Regions from separate parts of the Homo sapiens genome. Here region 1 is linked to region 2. The links come from fine-mapping of genetic effects on gene expression. A gene starts in region 2. The other region holds a variant in brackets. All regions are shown on one strand. Distances are between the middles of the regions. Region 1 has its middle 18 kb from the start of LINC02049. Region 2 holds the start of STXBP5L (syntaxin binding protein 5L).

Region 1 (10,158 bases), 54 kb after region 2:
TGAACTTATTGCTATGAACTATCAAATCAATCTTCAATCCCACCTTCAATCAGAAGAAAGCAAGTGAAAGGGCTCCTAATTATCCTAGAAGATAATTTGGACAGGAATCATGAGGCTTTCTAATAGGGAAAAAAATGGTACAAACAGGACCTAAATGGATTTAAAAATTTTTTTGTTGGATTTTGCTAGTTTCCATGCTATCAACAATTCCGTATGGAAAACAAACTAAATGGCTAAAACTTAGGAAAACTGAGGAAGGAAGGAAATGAGGGAGAACACTCAAAGTGAAAAGGGAATACTAAAGAAGCAATTATTGTCTTCTCTCTGATAAGCTGCAGACAGATAGTTAAGAGCTTTTAACACTGTGTGGAAGCACAGATGTGCTTTGCAGTGTACCCACCCACACAGATACCCGTACATGAAAACTAATTTAAAAAAAAAAGCTAAATACAACACATAGTTACACAACATGGGGGGACTAACACCTATTGAGTGCTCACTTTGTACCAGACTTTTAAGCAGACATAATTCGAGTGCGGGACCAGTCATAAATGATGACTAATTTGTAAAACTGATGTAAACATCCATTGAATACAATCAAATAATCATCCAGTGGTTATCACTTGGCATCCTTGGATAGCCAAATGTCATACACAATGTAATGCAGAGATGACTCAACAACATTCAACAAATATTTATTGAATACTGAGTTGGAAAACATCTGTGTACATGCCAAAAATGTCCCGCTGTCATGGAGCTTATATTCTAGCTGAAAGAGAGAGACAGAAAGCAGAAAATGTAATAAATAAATAAACCAATTGTATGGTATGCTAGGAGGTGAAGGGCGCAATGGAGTGAAGAAAACAAATAGAGTAGGACATGGGAGATCAGGAGCTCCGGGGATTGGGTGTGAGTCAGTTTTTAGTAGGTCTGGGGTAGGTCTCATTGAAAGCATAACATTTGAACCAAGATTTGAAGGAGGTTCTCTACAACTTCCACAGGTGACTGCTGCTTTCTCTGCCTTATATGCCTGTCTTAATTTACTGTTATTGCCAGGGAATCTCTGATGGCCCAGAATGCATGTTGTTTCACCACAGATCTTTGGACAGGAAGGCTGATTTAGATGCTTGCAAGAGGTGGGCAGAACCAGGTCTGGTCTTTGTCTAAGTGAAGCACTTGTTGTTTCCCCACCCAGACCTTTAGATTTTCAAACTATTCTTTCTTCAAATGGCTCACTTTTGCTGGTTTGATATATTCTTAACCATATTATTATTATAAATAATAATAGCAAACATTAAAGTTTATTGGGCATCAAGCTAAGTATCAAGCTCAGCATTAAGCACTCTATATATACCATCTCATTTAATTCTCATAACAGTTCCATGAACTAGAGAATGTTATTACTTCTATCTTACGGATAAGAAAACTGAGGCTTGGGGAGGTTAAATAGCTTACTCAAGATTAAAGAACTGGTAAGTGCCAGAGTCAGGCTGCAAGCCTGTCTGATTCCAAAGTTGATTTAGTTAATAAATTTAGTACTGAATTAAATATATTCCTTAATATAAACTTTAAACTATATAGTAAAGATCACAAATTTAATGGTTTTTTGAAGACATTGCTTTAGCTATCTTGGGTAATTTACACCCACAAAGAACATGACATTTGTTCTCACAATGCTTCTGATTGTCCAGTGCCATGGTTTCACAAATTTCATTTAGCAGCAAAATATTTTACTAAACAAAACCTTACAATAGAAGACTGGATCAGTCATAGTCCTAGCATGACAAATTCAAACTGAAGGAAAACTCAAAAAGGGTAAGTGAATAGGGTTTAATGAAGGGGCTATTCACAAAGGTCTGGGTGGGATAAAGGGAAAACTACAAGGGAAGGTGAGAGTACCTCAGGGCCAGGAATGGTGTTGCCACCCCTAGGCCTGAAGGTGCAAGAAAGAGGGCAGAGTGATGATCAAGACCTGGCAAGAACTGAAGCTATGGGAGAGGGCCACCAAATAAGAGAGGTGGGCTTTGGTAGAGGAATGAAGCCATTGCCAACAACAACCTAGAAATTAAGGAATCTGGAAAAGAAATACCCTTGCTTCTCTCTCCTTCGGCCCTCCAATCTACTGCTGCTTCTTCCATTGGCTGAACCCAATAGAAAGCTAAAGGTCAAGGAAGTTCAATTAATGCAATCCATAGAAGTCAGCCTCCCGAGACAAAAGACAAGATGAAAAGGACAGAGAATGGATTTAAACAAGCAAACAGAAGATATCCAGCACAGAACCAAATATGCAAAACTCGTCAAGCGGAATTTTTCCTGTTGAATAGGGGTGGGGTCTTCAGAGCCTGCCAACTTGATTCTCCACACTCACTTTCACTACAACAATCTCTGCGAAAACTTTGTTGAACTCTAGTGCTCTAGTCTAGTCCTTATGTTATAAATATCTCAGTCACAATCAACTACAGGTATGTGTGCATTGCCAACCACCATTTTTGAAAAACACAATATGTGTGTACACAATCATAGCACAAAAGGAGAGGTACCAGACCTGTCCCTGAAGGCTCAGAGTTCCAGGCTCTGGAAAGAATAGTCTGATAGCACATGTGATCGTACTGAGGGTCCCCTGAATCTGGGAACCTGAGGGCTGAATGAAACATCTATGAGATGTATAGGTCAGCTGAGGACCCTCTTTCCCCACTAGACAGGCTTTGGGCTTATAGGGGCTTCCATGGGGCAGCCTTGTCTGTTATTAAATGGGACTTTCCCAAAGGGATTCACAATTAAGTTTTGTGTGTCCATCAGATTAGAGAGAGGAATTTATATCCAAAGACATTGAAATATGTAGTTATTCACAAGGACAAACAAGGAAATAGATATAAGGGGAGAGGGGGCAAAAATAAAGGGTAGTTGGAAAGAGGGTCATATAGGTAAGATAAGTTATTAATCAGAAAAGTAACCACAAAGTGCCCATCACTAACCAAGTGCAAGTCTAATGCAGTTACTGGCAGCTGAGAAGCAATACCCTCCAAATATGCTCTGAAGTCTGAATCACAGCCTGGCCTCCTCCGCGGGGGCTGCTGCAGGTCCATCAGTCATTGGGCAGAGCTGCTGAGCACACCCTCTGCTGCTATGCAGAGAAGTCTGACTAGGAAAGCCAAAACTAGGATGGGGATGGGCGGGAATGGAGAGGCGCCAGCACACAGGAGCCAGACAGCCAGCCAGATATTCTGTCACTGGAGCTGCTACTTAAATCTCTTGGTTCACTGGAGAAAAAGTTTTTTTTTTTTTTTTTTTTTTTTTTGCGGGGGGAGAGAGGGATGTTGTTTTTAATCTCAGTAGCTAGAGTGGCCTTCATGGGGAACAAAAATAAGCTAAACGGAGGAGAAAGGCACAGCTGTTCTTTGCTTTCTGAAGAGTTCTCCAAATCTCTTATTTTATTATGTGTTGATGCAGCTGCCCAGCCAGAGGAACACGGCTTACCTCTGTGCCAAATGCAGGTAGAGAACAAGGTGGTGTGAGATGCAGCCTATGCTGCCCCATCTCTCTTCTGTGTTATGGCCCCTGGCCCTGCTCCCCTCCACAGCATGTCTCTCCTCTAGGTTGGCAAGCTTTATATTAATAACATAAAACCTTTGTCACACATGAGATGGAATGCAAATCATCTTACATATATTATCACATTTAATTAACAACATTATGAGGTAGGTACTATTATTACCACTGTCTATCTAGACGGGAAAATTAGGACTTGGGGAAGTCAAGAAACTTATAAACAAACAGCAGGCTGGAGTTTGAGCCCCAGCAGGCTGACTCAGTACCTGTGCACATAAACACCAGACCATCTTGTCTTGTCTATATATGGTTAGTACTTCACCTTATGCCTTTGTTTCCTCTGTCCTCTGAGTCAGCCTGGCCTCCATGTTTCTGACTCTAGACTGATCACTTAATATTTGGTTTTTAATTATTTTCTCTGTCACAGATGCTATAAAGGGAAGGCCAAATGCCGCTTGCCTGGCTTCTCTCTTCTCCTAAGAAAAGCCAGTCAGGGGGCCATCTGCAGGGCAATCAGTCCTGGTCAGGAAGAGGAAAGCGCCCAGGCCTGTCCCTTGGAGGGCCATCCCTCCTCCACATAGAATCCCATTCTCAGATCTAATGTTGAATGCAGAGCCCTGCCTTGAAATGTAGTTTAGCTGAATCCAGAAAGCCTCCCCAAACCTTGTACGTCCTCTAATGAGGAAAAGGAAGCTGGGCCATTAGCCTGAATCTATGACAGTGCCCATAAAAAGCAATGTTTGCTTTGCAAAACTGAGTCAGAGAGGAGAGGAAAATAACTCACACTTCAAAATCACCTCACCAAGTGTTTTCAGATAATTAAGAATGATTTAAATGCTCACATTTAGGAATTCAGTTGCAATTCAGAAAGCTACTAAAATTTTCCTTATTCAGAATAATACATGGGTTTAGATAAGACCTTTCAGTTTCAACTGTGTCAGTATTATAGGGGTAGATTTGAAATTGCTTTCTGTGTGTATCATGGAACTTCATGCTTCAATTCCATATCCTCTGCCTTTTTTCTTTTCCCAAGTAAAACTATCAATTTTTCTGGTATATTTTGCATATGTATATATTCATACATACATACTCATATTTAAATGAAAATTGAGAAGATTAAAAGTAAAGTTTACATGAATCATGGAAGCAGCTACTTTACCACCTTAGTTTTTCCTCCCCCTCTTTGTGGTATAGGCTTTGTGTCTTGTTCTAGAGAATAAAAAGATATATGGAATTACATATATTTCAGGATATATCTGTGGTTATTCATGGTTTTAGTCTCTAAAGCTTAACCTCAGCTTTAGAATTAATTTTATCCTTTGTATTATGGCACATTTGCTTGCAGGGAAGAGAAATCTACTTAACGTGGCTCAAGTAAAGGGGGCTTATTATAACGATACAGATCTACAAATCAAGAGGCCTCAGAAAAACCAAGCAAATCAGGAAACTTCAGCAATAGTCATTCTGTTTCCAACATAAACACTATTCAGCTACTAATGTCCTCAGTTTCTAGCTTTCTTGGTTCAAATTAGAAAGAGAGAGAGAGAGAGAGTCTGCTCAGTCAGCTCAGTCTGTACATTAGTTCTCTTTGAGTCAAATGACACCCCTGTGGTCACTGTAGCCAAGCAAAGTAAAACAGGGTTATTTGCTACCAACGGAGCCACTAGAGCTATATTGCAGATTCTCTCAATAGAATATGTGGTTAAATGTATATGAGTGCATGTTTGGGGTTGAATGGGAATGGGGCAGAAAATGATAAATATCAATTTCTAATATATCCATTAAAGAAAATCTAAGATGAAAAATTATCTTTCTTCAAGGTTTCATATTGTTTGCTCAAACCCTAGGTTTCTAGGGGGCACTTCTAGCATATGTTATTTTAAAGTTTAGTGAAAGACTGTGTGCTAAAATGTCTGTTCTCTGCCCCACAAACTGCTTCAAGACCTAGGGCTTAAGGTAGTGAAAAATAATACATAAGAGCAGCATAGAACTTAACAATAAATTATGTCCTAAGAGTTTCTTGATGTATTAGTTTGCTATGGTATCTCTAACAAATGAATACAACAATAAAGAAATGTATTTTCTCACAATTCTGGGAGCCAGAAATCAAGATCAAGGTGTGTTGCAGGGTGGCTTCTTGTGACCTTTCTCCCGACTTGCAGATGGCTGTGTTCTCCCCATATCTTCATATGGCTTTCCGCGCAC[G/A]CGCGCGCGTGTGTGTGTGTGTGTGTGTGTGTGTCCTAATGTCCTTTCCTTATAAGGAAATCAGTCATATTGCATTAGGGCTAACCCTAATTTTCTTTATTTTAATTTAATTACCCCTTTAAATATTTTGAAACACGGTCACATTCTGAGGTACTAGGGGGTTAGGACTTCAACATGTGAATTTTGGGGGAGACACAATTAAGCCTAAAACAATTGGGAGGCCTATTATTTGGAACAGGAATAGAAGACGCATTTTCCAATCACTCGCCTGGACAGTAAACTCCTCCCTGGTCTTCCCACTTTACCATGTTATGGTAAATCCACCAGAAAGCCAGAGATTGATCCTTTTCTAAACCAATGACAAATCTAATTTTGTCATTTCCTGCTTAGAGGACCCCCTCAAGGTCCAAATGCCTCCCATATCACACACAGCTTCCCACAGTGAGCTCCAGGTAGTATCCCCAGTCCCCAGCCTCACCTCCAGCCACTCTTCTACCCTTCTGCACACGATGCTCCAAACCCCTGGACCACTGACTGATGGCATGTTGGGAAATTTCTGCCTTATGCATTTTATGTTCTTATTTATTCTGTATTTAAACAAATTTCATGGTACTTTAAAGACAAAAAAATTATTCTACATTACTGCTTTCTACCATTCATTACTTGTACATTTATTTCAATTACATTGTAAGTGAAATAGAATTCTGGACTCTCTAAGAACCTAGCTTATTATTTCTGATTAATTCCATAAATATTTGTTATGCACCTATCAAAAGTCATTTATGTCTTGACATTTATTATATAAAGATGAAAAGTGAAGTCTCTGATTTTAGGAAGTTCAGAGTCTAGCTGTGAAGGAAGACAAGCATGTAAACAAGTAACTGTAATATAAGGTGACAAGTGCGGGAATAGAAATATGCATGCAGCACTCTAGGAATGCAAAACAGATTAATTTTACCTGAGGTGGCTAGAAAAGCTTCAGGGAGGGTAGTTGATATTTGAGCTAGAAACTTGATAAGAGGAAGTGGGAAATTTCAGGTACACAGCAGGAAAAGCAAAGATAAGAGCCGTTTACAGATACCTGCCAGGACATTAGGGGACCCTCAGCTGCTATCCCTTTTCTCTATCTGGGAATCTGCAGCTAAGGGTTATGTAGCCTTTGCTTTTGAACTGTCAAAATGCAAAGCATCTAATTATACCCCCCTTATTCTAGACAGCAACTGTTGAGTTCAGACTCTAAGAACTCCTATCCACCTGCCTGTCTGAAAGAAACCACCTTCAGATTCCACAGTAATTTCCCTTCTGAAGGAGAGGCCTAAGGTGATTCCATGGTGCTTTTATGGTGCCTCTCTCCCTAAAGAAAAGAAAAAAATTAATCTCTGGAAAGTTACGCTGTTGCATATGATAATTTCCTTTTTGAAAGATCCCAATGTCTTGCCAGCACTCCAAACCAATTGAATCAAAATTTCTGAGAGTGGGACAAAGGCATCAGTACTTTTTAAAGCTCCCTAGATGATTTCAATGTGAAGCCAAGCTTGAAAATTACTGATTCAGAATATATGGGTATTTTCCCCCTTATTACTGATATTTAACTATCATAATTTTCAAGGTTTTTTGACAAGATTAGAATTACTTGTTGGTTCAGAGATGGAAGGGGACAGACACTGCTTGTTTTCATCTCCAACGTGAAATTTGTCTTTTCCTGTTTTGGTTTATCTCAGTCACATAGTCTATCTTGTTTCTGTCAACATTCCTTTATCTTTCTCAGGCACGTGTCCTCAGGTTAGGAGACAGGTTTTGGCCAAGTGAGTTTAAGAGAAAGGCCTGCAGCCTGCCCCACCTCTGCTTCATTGCTTCCATAGCTAGGAGGTCACCTTAACTTAAGGATGCAGACAATGGTATCTTCACCTGACTTCAGAGTATTCTTTGGAGCTAAATCTCTGCGATGCCCTCTTCGTGCAAGGACTGATCCCAGTCCCTGACCTGTAGACTGAAGTTAGACTAAATACATCTCTTTCCATTGCCTAATCCTCCCAATATGCTGCTGAGGAAGGGGATGAGAGGAATGGAGAGATCCTGACATCAGAAGAGAAGGGAAGAACTTTAGTTGGGGAGAAGGTGGACCACCAGCCCTCATCCTCAGACATGACACCTGATCTCTACTCCTCCTTTTCCCTGATTTGAAGACAGAGATTGTGAGAAGGCAGTTGGCTGGAGGGGACTAGGCAGAGGAGAGAAGAGTGAACCAATTAGCTAGTCTACTAAAAAGTTAGCATCAGTAGAGCGGGAAAAGGAAGAACTCAGAGACCCAGCAATCACAGTGACAGTGACAGGTAAATGAAGCCCAGACTAGGCAAAACTGCTGGTGCTGCAGTCCACTGAGTCAGAAAGAACTAATTTATCATCAAATTAACCAGCTAACGCCTGTGGATGAAGCATCCCACACAAGTGTTGGCTCTAGCCAGGCTGCTCATTTGTCAGCACTGAAGTGACATCATCCAAATTCACAGGCAGATGCCCAACTTGATGAAAACTCATGATTCACCCAGAATCTGTTGGGCATACACAGCTGACTGGGTGACCTCTAAGGCCCCTTCTGGTTTTTTAATTCTAAAGTTCTGTGATCCCAAGTTGCTGCCATGAACCTGGCATGTCCCAGAAAGTGCACTCAGGGGTATTTCCAAGGAGTTTTGTGTCTAGGTGCCAGTGCATTTTATGTGAAAAATGAAGGCTCACTATGCCAAGGGAAAGAAATTGCCAAAAGGCAATTTCCAACAAAGGAATGGCTGTTTCTATGTGCCCATTTTTCCTAAGCAGTCCTCTAAATGGTATACAAACACAGGGCCATTATCTCAACCAGTTTCTACCCAGGCAATGAGATATTTGTATGGCAGAGATCTTACTCTTCCTTCTTCCTGGTTGCCCATAGATAGAATTCCCTTAGGACCATACTACAGAAGCCACGCCCCACCCCTTTGCTATTAGCAATCTGTCTCCCCTTCTGCGGCTTTCTAAGCTTACTTGTTCAGAGGCACCATGGGGGGGTTGGTCTTTATTTCTGATCCCTCCAGGTAGTAAACATTGTGCCAATTCCTTTTGGACTGAGAACTAGAGTCAGCAGAGAACTCAGCGGAAATAAGGGCTCTGCAAGGATGGAAGCAGACCATGTGTTCCTCCTGCGTGCATAACAGGTCTCTGTTCTCACGCTGAGATAGCAGCTGCAGCTCCGCACCCTATCCCCACCAGACCCTTGCCTTATTCTCTTTTTTAATCACTTATTCTGGCTGTTCTTCCTCCCAACAATAATTCATAATGATTTCAGATAGAGTGCTCCTCTCATCATGGTGAAGTATAAACAGTGAATTTACAATAAATACCACTTACATAATTCTTTGACTGCATATGAAAATAAGGGGAAAGACTTAAAATATTTTCCTTCTAATCATGAGTTAGAAACATTGGTGGATTTGGATTATAATCATTTGTTTTTGTGGTTTTTACAAAAGCATTTCCCATTTCCTGGATTTTCTTATTACATTAAAATATCTGTTCATAGGAGGCTGGGATCTATGGCTCTGTATTTTTAAAAGGAGAAAACGGACAAAAAATTAGACATCATGGATGTAATTTTTAAAGTAATTTTAAAGAATGTCCTGAGTAATAATGAATCAGTACAATCTTGCAAACTTCTGCTGTGTGCATTATCTGCAATGATAGGTGATTCACTCATTCACAGAAAGATTCACTCATTCTATAAAATCCTCAAACTTTGAGGAAACATTACATTCTCTGGTAATTCCATATCTTCAAATTACCCAGGGTTGTGAGAATAAGTAAGTTGAGCTGAAAAAGGGAACACGTCAAATACTTTGCCATTCTGTGAATAAGGCACATCCCTCAGATGAGAAATCCTGGTTAAATGTGAGGACTCAATGAATTCTGGGAGTTTTAAACTAGAAAAAAAAAAAAAAGGAATTTGCTCTGAGAGGAAACAAGAAGGCCAATTAGGCCAGTTCATAGGAAATAAGATATAATCAGACCCCCAGAATCCGAGTAGCCAAAAGGAGGCTGGAATTTGAGAAGGAAGGTAGGAAAGACATCTATAAATCTGCACCATGCCTCAGACCAAAGTATATCTATTTTAATATAAGAAGTTTTGAGATTCAGATAAGTTTTGCCATATTTACTAGTAACCTTAGAACCGAAAACATATGCTATACTTTAAAGATTAGATAATTGCAAAGTCTTTATACTCTCCCTTATATATTTCCCCATTTCATTAAATTATAGAGTCACCTTATTTTTTTTAAGAAAATTGTTGTTTTTCTACCTTGTATAGTGTAATTTCTTAATTACAGCTCTTAATTTTGGAGTATATCTCCCTGCCATACATGGTCCACTCAT
Region 2 (10,158 bases):
ATCTCTATTTTAGACACCAGAGTTAAGAAATACTGGCCAGCTAGATAGTGTATACCCTAGCAATAAGAAGGAAACAAGAAAAAAAAATTATTTGCTTTTCAAAGAGTTCATAGTATAACGGCAGTGACAGATTTTTAAGAAACTTTTTTAATCACAGGAAGATGCTAAATTCACACTATAGGTATATGCCAGATGCTACAGAAAAACATAGAATAGGTTTTTAAAAAAGAAAAAAAAGAACCCTGGTGGGTAGTTGAGGTGGCAGTGGTCAGAGCTAGTCTCATAGAGGTGATGTTTGAATTATGAGGTAAAAGATGGCTGGGAATTATCCAATCGTATGAAAGTAGAAAAGGTATTCTAGTCAGAAACGAAAGAATGAGAGAAGGCATTGAGATATGAGAAAATATGGTATCTTTTAGGGAATGCAGTATACTTAGGGAATCAAGCAAATAAAAATGGAAAGGTAAACAGGAATCTCTTCTGAAGGAAACTCTATACCCATCAAGGTAAGCAATTTGAAATTTATTTTATAGAGCAATAGTTTCAAATTGTATTTCACAGAATTCAAGTTCAGGAAAGGCAGTTCATGTATTTCACAAATACCTGGACAATGCAGGCATTCCAATGTATACACATTCTGAACGATTGCAGTAACCCAATGCATTAACTTTTTTTTTTTTTTGGCTGACCTTGAACCAAAGTTTCTTCTGCCATTTCTATGACTTTGAACATCTCATAGATATTTTGTTTATTATGAAGGGTACAGCTTTATACTTTCACTTTTTTAAGGCTAGCGAACATCCTACTACCTTCCTATGGGCGATATTACACAATAAAAAACAAATATAAAAAGTTTTTTTATCAATTGGCTGTATAATTTATTCTTATAATTTCTGAAACAAATGTGTGCCCATGAGTTGCCACATTTTTTTGTTTGAATAGATGTTATTTACTGTGGTTTCAAATAAGACTTTCATTTTAAGAGCATCATTGCTGTAGGAAACCAATATAGAATTTTTAGCAAGGAAATGACATAATTAACATTGTATTTCAGAAATAGCCATTATTGTAACAAAATGAAGTGTAATCCAGTAAAACTAGAAGTAAAGAGATCAGTTAGAAAGTGATTTCAAAAGACCAAGCAAGAAAATATGACGGAACGAACAAGTACTGGGGATGTAGAAAAGGTCATAAATTTCAGAAATACTAAGGAAATAGAATAGAGGGGATGTGATGACTAATCAGATAGAAGAGAGGAGGCTTTCAAACAGCCAAGTCTAGATTTATACTTTAGTTTTGCCCATGTTGAAAAGGTAGAAGCACCCAGAATATGACAGCTCCTTAGAACTCAGAAGAGAAATTTTTTTGCACATTTAATCAGGGAGTCTATGAGTCTAAATAAAGTCCCCATTTCAGTAACGGTCTAATTTTGGGATTTCCTTAGTCCATTTTTATATGTTTTGTTATAGACCAGGTAATTATAATACATCCATATAACTATTTTTTAAAATTAACTATATTCCTATCCAAAGATGTTACAGTATTTTCCACATTTAGTAAGACTTCAGTACTGTTAGTGGACAACTTATATAGCTATCTATCTTATAATTTATTTGGAAATCATAAGCTAATATTATTATAACCCACTAGTTATATTCGCTCTACTATGAACACGTGATTTTACAAACTTTAACAATAATATTCGTATATATTTTATCATCCTTTCCATTTATGCATTACCTTCACCTTATTCTGTCTGATCCTCCCAATAACCGTCTCTTAGTTAAGGAGAGCAGATACACTTATTCCTACACTGCAGATGCAGAAATCAAGGCTCAAGGGAGATAAATGGCTTACCCAAGAGTATATGGCTGTCAACTAGCAGAACTTTAAATAAAACACAAATTTTCTGATTCCTAGGCCAGTGCTCTTCCTACCATGCCATATGTTTTTAAAGTAGTATGTATTTAACTTCTGGTACTTCCTATGACTATCTCTTGCCTGAATAAATGGGAAGATAACTATGTATTCCATTATCTCTTGCATTCACCCATTTCCCTGAAGTTTTTTATTTAAAACCTTCTCTACAAGCTTTATGACCTCAACAGCCCAATGCCATTCTGTTTCAGAAGTCTATCTTTCCTATACCAGTTTTACCTCTGGTAAAATTCTCCTGTATCACTGTCATATACATGAATTGAGAGAATTTGGAAAAAATTTTCAGAATCTGATCGTGAAAATTGCAAACACATCAAAGATTAGAGAATCAGGGCATAATTCCCCTGCCTAGCAGTTCAAATTTGAACTCCAGGACTCTTTTACATTTGTCTCATAACCACTGTTAAGACCTTCCCTCATCGAACAGAATATCTGTTATTTCCTATTGAGGAAAAAAATTATTACTGTACACAAATTTCACAAAGTAGCTTAGAATTAAATCTGTTTATCTAAATTAACTCTAAATAAACTTGCTTTTATGTAAACTAATAACTATAGATTTAATGTTTTTATAATGACCCTGCTAGGAATATAGGCTGAGACAGTGATTGAAATATACCTCATTATACATATATCACTTGTTTACCACAAATATAATTTTAATAATTTCAAAAAACTTTTCTTTTGTGAAAGTATTTTTAAAAATTGTTAATTTCTGTAATTTTGCAATTTTTCTATTTCTTATGTAGCCAAACACATTTACAAAACTATATTCATTTATATGACATAAATAACTTAGTAGCCTTTGTTGCATATAATAGGCACATTCCAAGACAACTCAAAAAAGGGCAATAAAATTATAAATCACTTTATGTCATAAAATATAACAAATATAGCAATAACAATATCTCTATGCATTAACCTAATGCTTGTTTTATAAACTCTCATCTTCTCTACCTACCAGAAACTCTCTTTTGCATATTCATTAGAAGTTCAATATCAAAGTATAATTACATAAAATGTTTTCTTACTAAACCAGAACACCCGCTATTTTTGAGTTCCTACAACTGCAAGTTCTTATAAGCCTGTGCATTTGTCTGTTTGTGTATTTATGAAGAGTTTAAGAATGTGAAGGTGTTTTTATTCGGAATTTTAAAGCAATGTCATTGGCCCCCTTAAAATGAACATATTTTCCTATTATCTACTTAATCCTAGCAACATGCTAGTAGCTTTATTCATTTCATACTGAACAGTGAAATAACAATATTTTCTCTGATAACACAAAAAACCAAACGACTATTTGCTTCTTCAGTTAATATAATACACAAATATTAAAAATTTTGTCCACTATTGGATCTTAACATTATCTTGCAAATTCTACTTTTTGTGTGTGCTCATTTCCCACTTAAACTATCATTGCTTTTTAAGTTGACGCCTAAAATATCTATTAAGCCAAACTGATCTACCCACAGAGCTTTCTGCAGCAGACTCTGATGCTGACATCTCAACAGTTTCCTGTTCCTGGTATGTTTTTCCCCCCTTGTTTCCTTACAACAGTATAATAAAGAAATAATAGGCTTTAAGCCAATTCAAAACTTACCTTGCAAATCTGGAAATACTCCGAAGTCAAAGTTTCCTGAATTTCCTCTCTGAGAACCCCTGCAGTCCCCGCCGGATGTACGGAACCACTTCCAGCCCCACCACCACTGTTACTGCCACTGCTGCTACCACTGCCAGGGGAGGAGGCAGTTAAGCCATCCAAAACTTTTCGGAAATTAAACTTCTTCATTTTAAACACTGTTGAGAAATACAAAGGAAAAAAAGGGAAAGAGGTGACTTAACACGTGCAATTAGACCTTGGTAAAAGCCTTTCTCTTTTCATTAGTCAAGTCAGTCCCCATTTTATGAGCATTGGTTACGACCGACTGGAAAAAAAGAGTCAGGATTCGTTTTGCCAAATTTTAATTCTAAAAAGCATATCCTTTTTAAAAAAAGATAAATATAACACAACTCCAAAAGCAACAGTATTCCCTCCTCACACATCAGATTTTCAAGGACTGTATCCCCAGCTGTAACTACGCTTTATCAGCACTGGGGTAAAAATAAAAGGCAGTGTCATCATCGTCATTAGCATTATATCATCATTATTATACAATCAAACCAGAGTTCAACAGACCAAGACTCTGTCTCTCTCTTAAGGGCGGACTTTCCTTCTTCGAAACGTTCGGCTCAGAGTATTTTATTTTCAGAAAAACGACGTTGGGGGAGCCGGTATTTACTCTGCCACCACCTTCCGGGCTCTTCCCCCATCAGCTTCAACGCTTCCTTTTTTGTCACTATGAAAGGCGGGGAGGGGGGTACTTTTTCTAGTCCCCATCCCCCAGCAGCCCGGACCCCAAAACATCTGCGAGTGACCCACAGCAACAGCTGCCGGGGAGGGGGGGAGGAGGAGAACGGCGACACCGTCTGTTTCCACTTGTCCCTCCGCCTCCCCCTCACCTCCCCCTCATCTCCCTCCCCGCGTCCTCTTTCCCCCCTCTCCCCATCTCCTGCTCCCCTCCCTCCACCTCTGCCCGCAGCCGCCGCCGCGCTCTCCCGCCTGTTCGCCCGCCCGCCGTCCGCTCTCCCCGCTGCACGGCAGCCGCTCTCGGGGGACGTGAAGCGGTGGCGGCGACGGCTGCGGCCCGAGTCCCGCCTCAGCCTGCTGGGCGCGCAGAGCCGCCGCTCCCGCTGTCCCTCCCCCAGGCCCAGCGCTGAGGCGCGGGGCTCTCGCCCGCCCGCGGGCGCGCGAACACACAAACACCTCACGCCGAGGCATTCGCGCTCCCAGCCAGAACACACACAAACACCCTCACACGGGCATTCGCGCGCTGGTGCGCTCGCTCTCTGTCTCTGTCTCTCTCTGTCTCTCTCTCTCTCAAACACACACACACACTCACACAGACACACACAGGTGCGAGGGAGCCACAGCTGGACGGCGGCAGCGGCGGCGGCGTCCCAGAGGGATGACTATCTGACCCAGGACTTAGGCACCTTCCTCAGACGCCTCTAGCCGCCTGCCAGCCCGGGAAGCTGAGGGGGCCGAGGTAGGCGGGCTCCGGCCGCTTCTCTGGGCCCTCTGGTCGCGGCGCCTGGCGCTCTCCGAGGTCCTAACCGAGCAGTCAGGCTCCAGAGCAGGCTCCGCCCTCCCGCCGTGGGAGGCAGGCCCCGCCCCCGGGCCGGCCCCTAGCTTGCCCCGCCCTGCTTCTTCCCCGGCAAAGCTGGGAGGTGAAGGGGGCGGGGTGCCCGGGGACGTCAAAGGGCGGGAGTAGCTTCGGCGCCAATCCTAGATTCGATAGGGTAAGTTCTGTGGTCTCCAGGGCAGAAGAAATCTGTGGATAGGCCGAAGGTAAAGCCAATGACAGTGGGAGGGGGGAATTTAGAGAAGTAGGTGAGGTATTTGATTGACAGCGGTATTGGCCAGTATGCTGGGGGTCGTGCTCTGGGGGATGTAATTGGCGCTACCTGTTGAAGGACTCAAGTGTGAATCAATAGAATGCCTGCAAGCGTGCGAATTTGGACGCCTGGAGTCTGAGGATGCGGGAAGCGTTGCTTACCTTAGGTATGGCTCTGGACAGTATGGTGAACTGAGCAAGTGTTTTGCACCTTTTCACTTCTGCGAGCCTCTTCCCGGTCTTCAGGAGCATCTATCTGGCTCCCATCACTCTCCTGCTACCTGCACTCAACTTGTATCTGTGATTAACCCCTGCTGTTACCAATAATGGCTTAATGGTTCGTATCTGCCAAGGAGAATTGTATTTCAACAGTTTCAGAATATATAGCCTTCTAGAGCCTAAGGAATTGATTGCTTACCTTGCTCTCTAGTAAGTAGAATTACTCCTTCCCCATCATCCTCACATATACAAAGATATTTAATTTCTTTAAAGAAATATTTCTCACTCTGTAAACCGTATCAAGAATATATTTTAAGCTATTTCTGTGAGTCACAATAATCATTTTGAAAGATGTATTATTCAGTGCAGAAAAAAAAACTGTATCAGGATAGATTTGGTTCTGAGCCCTCACCTGCTATTGACTTCGGGAAAATTTGGACCCCGATGTCTTTGCGAAATGAATGGCAGTTCAGCGGGTCACAGCTAACTGAGACTTCAATTTGGGCATCACAACAGAACTCATTAGTGATCATTTCAAATATTGTCTTACATCTTACAATCTTTGACCTCTTTTTTTCTTTTCTTCTTTTTCTTCTTTTTCACCTCTCCTCTTCTCTCTCTCTCTTTTCTCTCAATCAAGGGAGAGAGTGGGAAGGAGGAAGCAGGAGACTTGAAGGATGATGACTTGTCCAAGGACATAGCAAAGAAATGGTAAAGATGAAATAGAGCTCAGTTTTTCAGATCCTCAGCTCAACGTTGAATCTTTCTGTCCTGAATGACTATTTCACTCCTTTTGGGACTCCCTACACTGCTGGTAGTCTCTCATTGCCACAGCTAGACAGTAACCTTCTTGAAGGCAAGCATGGAATTGTATATTTCTCCTAGATTATTTAGCACCAGGCACAATATTTCACTTAAAATAGGCACGTAAAGGGTTCTGAAGAGTTGGTTTATTAATATTTTTTATTAAAGATATATGAGTTGGTACCCAATTACATAATGTTTGAAAGGGGTAAAAATAATGGTGGAAATAAGTGATATGTCTGACACAAACTAGATCTTGGTAGGGTTCCAAATTCTGTATTGGGTCCCTAACAACAGGTATCTTTTTACTCTTTTCCACCTTTTTTCTTCTCTTCTTCCTGGCCCATTGCTCACCTCAAAGTATGGACGCTAGTTAAGGATAAAGAGTTTGCTTTCCTTGTTTTATGTCTGTCTTTTCTTTTTAAAAACAGAGGCAAGGAGGGTTATAATAAAGTGGCTGAGTTTTCATTTTTCTAATAAATGAAAGCAAGCCTATAGCAAGTAGTGGTTTGACATTTTGATGGGAGCGAAGAAGGAGAATAGCCCCAATTCAGCAAAGTGAGATGTAATGTTTGCAAACAAAACCTCTTAAACTGATCATCACTAGCACCATATTATCACAAACTAAATGATGGTCTTTATTCTAAAAATTGGGGGAGAGCTGAGGAAAAAAGTACACAAAAGATTGACAGAGATCCTTCTTGAGGACCCTGGAGAGAATTCAATGGACTGCCTGAGTTAGATGGGACAACAAATAGGTATAGGAAGTGGGAGAAAAGCCAAGTCAAAATGTATTCATGTTTCCAAATAAATATTGGAAGCCTAAAAAAATATGATCATTAGGATGCTTAGATTGTGGACTATTTGGGATTATTTCAAATATCTGTGTTCCTCCACAGTGAATAGCATAATGTCTTCTACATAGTAAGTGCCCAGTGAATATTAATTTGAATGAATGGCAGCAAGTAAAAATCATAACATAATTGCAGTCTCAGAGAGCCTGTGCACACAGGATATTGTGATGCCAATTCACAAACTGTGAGCAAAGGATAGAATTAAGCAAGAGGCAGAGTACATTGTGTGTATGAGGAGACAGCAGAAACAATAGCCTAAAAATCTTACTAGGTGAGAGAAGCATAATGAAATATCTATGGAAGTAAATTTCATCCTGGATTAATTAAAAAGCAATAAGATGTTATTTTATAAACCATCTATTAACAGCAATGAGACCAGACCACAGCATATATTTTATAAATAATGTGAGAAACTTCAGAGTTGGATCGGGTAATAATAATGATGACCCCTTATCATTCACTGCAAACTGGAAGAATACTTTGTGGAGAGGAATGGCTGAGGTACAGCTTCTGAATAAGGCTTGATTTCTTCCTAAAATGACAAGTATGAAGAACTGCAAAAAGAAAAATACTTTCAGCTTGATCCATGGAGCAAAATCATCAAAGCATTTAAATAAATCTACTACATCAGAAGGATTTTTAGGATGTGTGTTGAAAATATGTTACAACTCACTTTAAGTGTTCGTGATTTTGGACTCAAGCCAACAATGAAGCTAAGAGAGGCTGCCTTTCCACACCTGCAAAATAATTAAATAATTGTAGAAAGTATGTACATGTGTGGCACTTCACACAGAGAAGAAAATTTAACTGGCTAGGGTTACAGAAAACTAAGCAAAATTGACAAAACCATATGTAAATAATCCATTGTATATAGAGATAATAATAATTCTACCAGTTATTTAGCACTACGTCAAACATTGTACTATGAACTTTACATACAACTCTTTTAACTTGATCCTTATTATAACTCTATAAGATAGGTATTGTCCCCATTTTATGAAAGAGGAAATTTGGAGCTCAGAAATATTTAAGAAATTCACCCAAGGTCACTTAGGTGGATAATCCAGTCTTCGAATTCAAAGCTGTCTAACTTCTAAGATCATGCTCTTAATCGGTGCCTTATTATTTGATACCATTTAGAAGATTAAATAGAAACTAGAATAGAAAAAAAGGTGGCGGGTCAATTCTCCACCTAAAATAGTGATTGTATGTGTATTAGTCTTTCAGGACTGCCATAACAAAATACCATAGACTGGGTAGCTTAAAAAACAGGAACTTAGCACAGTTTGGGAGGCTAGAAATCCAAGATCAAGGCATCGGCAGATTTATTTTCTTCTGAGGCTCTCTCAATGGCTTGCAGATAGTCACCTTCTCTCTGTGGCCTTACATGGTCTTTTCTCTGTGGGCTCACATCCCTCGTTGATTTCTCCATGTGCCTAAATTTCCGCTTCTTATAAGGCTCCCAGTCAGATTGTGTTAGAGTCCACCTTCATGGCCTCATTGTGGCTTAATCACCTTTTAAAATATCCTATCTCCAAATATGCTTCCATTCTGAGGTACTGAAGGTTAGGGCTTTGACATATGAATTTTGGGAAGACACAATTTAGCCCATGACAATAAGATCATCAAATTCAACATCCTTTGAGGAGAGCATCTACTATGAGCTGGAATTGTGTTTAAAAATTTACATTTATTGGCCGGGCGCGGTGGCTCACGCCTATGATCCCAGCACTTTGGGAGGCCAGGGTGGGTGGATCACGAGGTCAGGAATTCGAGACCAGCCTGGCCAACATGGTGGCCTGTCTCTGCTAAAATACAGAATTTACCTGGGCACGGTGACAGGAGCCTGTAATCCCAGCTATTTGGGAGGCTGAGACAGGTGAATTGCTTGAACCCAGGAGGCAGAGTTTGCAGTGAGCCGAGATCGCGCCACTGCACTCTAACCTGCGTGACAGAGCGAGACTCCATCTCAAAAAAAAAATTACATTTATTTTCTCATTTAATCCTCACAACAATAATGTATGGTAGCTATAGATAACTCCATTTTACAGGTAAAAAACTGAAGCAAAGCAAGGTTAAGTAATAAGCCCAATATCATACATCTGGTAGGTTTTGAAACAAGAATTTGGACTAATCTCAATCTTACTCCAAAGTTCTTTCCTCACGCTAGTAGTTTTCTGTTGAGGACCCAGAGAAATCCCTTTATAAAGGTGTTTTATATTAGAAAAGTTAATTATGACAAATTCGAGTATTAGGTTAAAACAAAACAGAAAAAAATGGAAAATATCTCTTCAGGAATTTGGATACTAGAACTAAAAAGACATTTGAGAGTTCATGGGCACTGAGTACTAGAAATGGAAGACTTTGGGAACGGCAAGCTAATGGGAGGTTCTTATCTCACAAGAAATCTCAGTATAATTTGAAATACATTAACAGAGTCGCAGGGGAGTACCCCATCAAAATTGAAGAAAATCAGTTATCAATAACTAATTAGATGTAGTAAGGCAGTATTAATTTGCTGAGAAAGGCTGTAGTCTGAGTGACTATCAGAACAGCTGGAAGGAGAATTTGGATGGAGGGAGAATGATGACATAATACTTACCATAAGGTGGGGCTGGCAATTGTTTACATTAGCAAATGCGAACATTTCCATTGTGCGTGCTGTGAGCTTCTAGGTCCTGGCATGAGCAACCTAATTTGTCACTCACTTCTGACTCTTCAATCAAGTTATAGCAGTGTCCTTATTATTTGCCGGTTTAAAAGTTAGAATTTCAGTAAGAGAACATAGCTAAGTAAACAGGTTCCACCTATATCCTTTCTGGCAAATTTTTCCAGAGGATTAGGAATTACCTTTCCTTCCTAAGTTTTCATCTAACTCTTTTCTGACCCTATTATACATCCTTCAAGAG

The links. PIP is the estimated chance that this variant, and not a neighbour inherited with it, causes the effect. A credible set is the group of variants that fine-mapping cannot tell apart.
Region 1: its variant is the best candidate, but not a certain one, in a credible set for the expression of STXBP5L in thyroid (GTEx, PIP 0.71).

Annotation. Positions count from the first base shown.
Region 1 is chr3:120,849,205-120,859,362 of GRCh38, reverse strand. No RefSeq gene overlaps it. Among named protein-coding and RNA genes, the nearest start is that of LINC02049, 18 kb to the right of the region's middle. The variant G/A (reference allele first, on the strand shown) is at 5,755.
Region 2 is chr3:120,903,148-120,913,305 of GRCh38, reverse strand. STXBP5L (syntaxin binding protein 5L) reads right to left here and starts at 5,101. Exons shown (of 27, transcript NM_001308330.2): 1 at 4,972-5,101; 2 at 3,539-3,735. The coding sequence starts at 3,727. It overlaps LOC105374069 (a long non-coding RNA gene), which reads left to right and starts at 5,213. Exons shown (of 6, transcript XR_924399.4): 1 at 5,213-5,277. RefSeq lists a silencer at 5,030-5,269.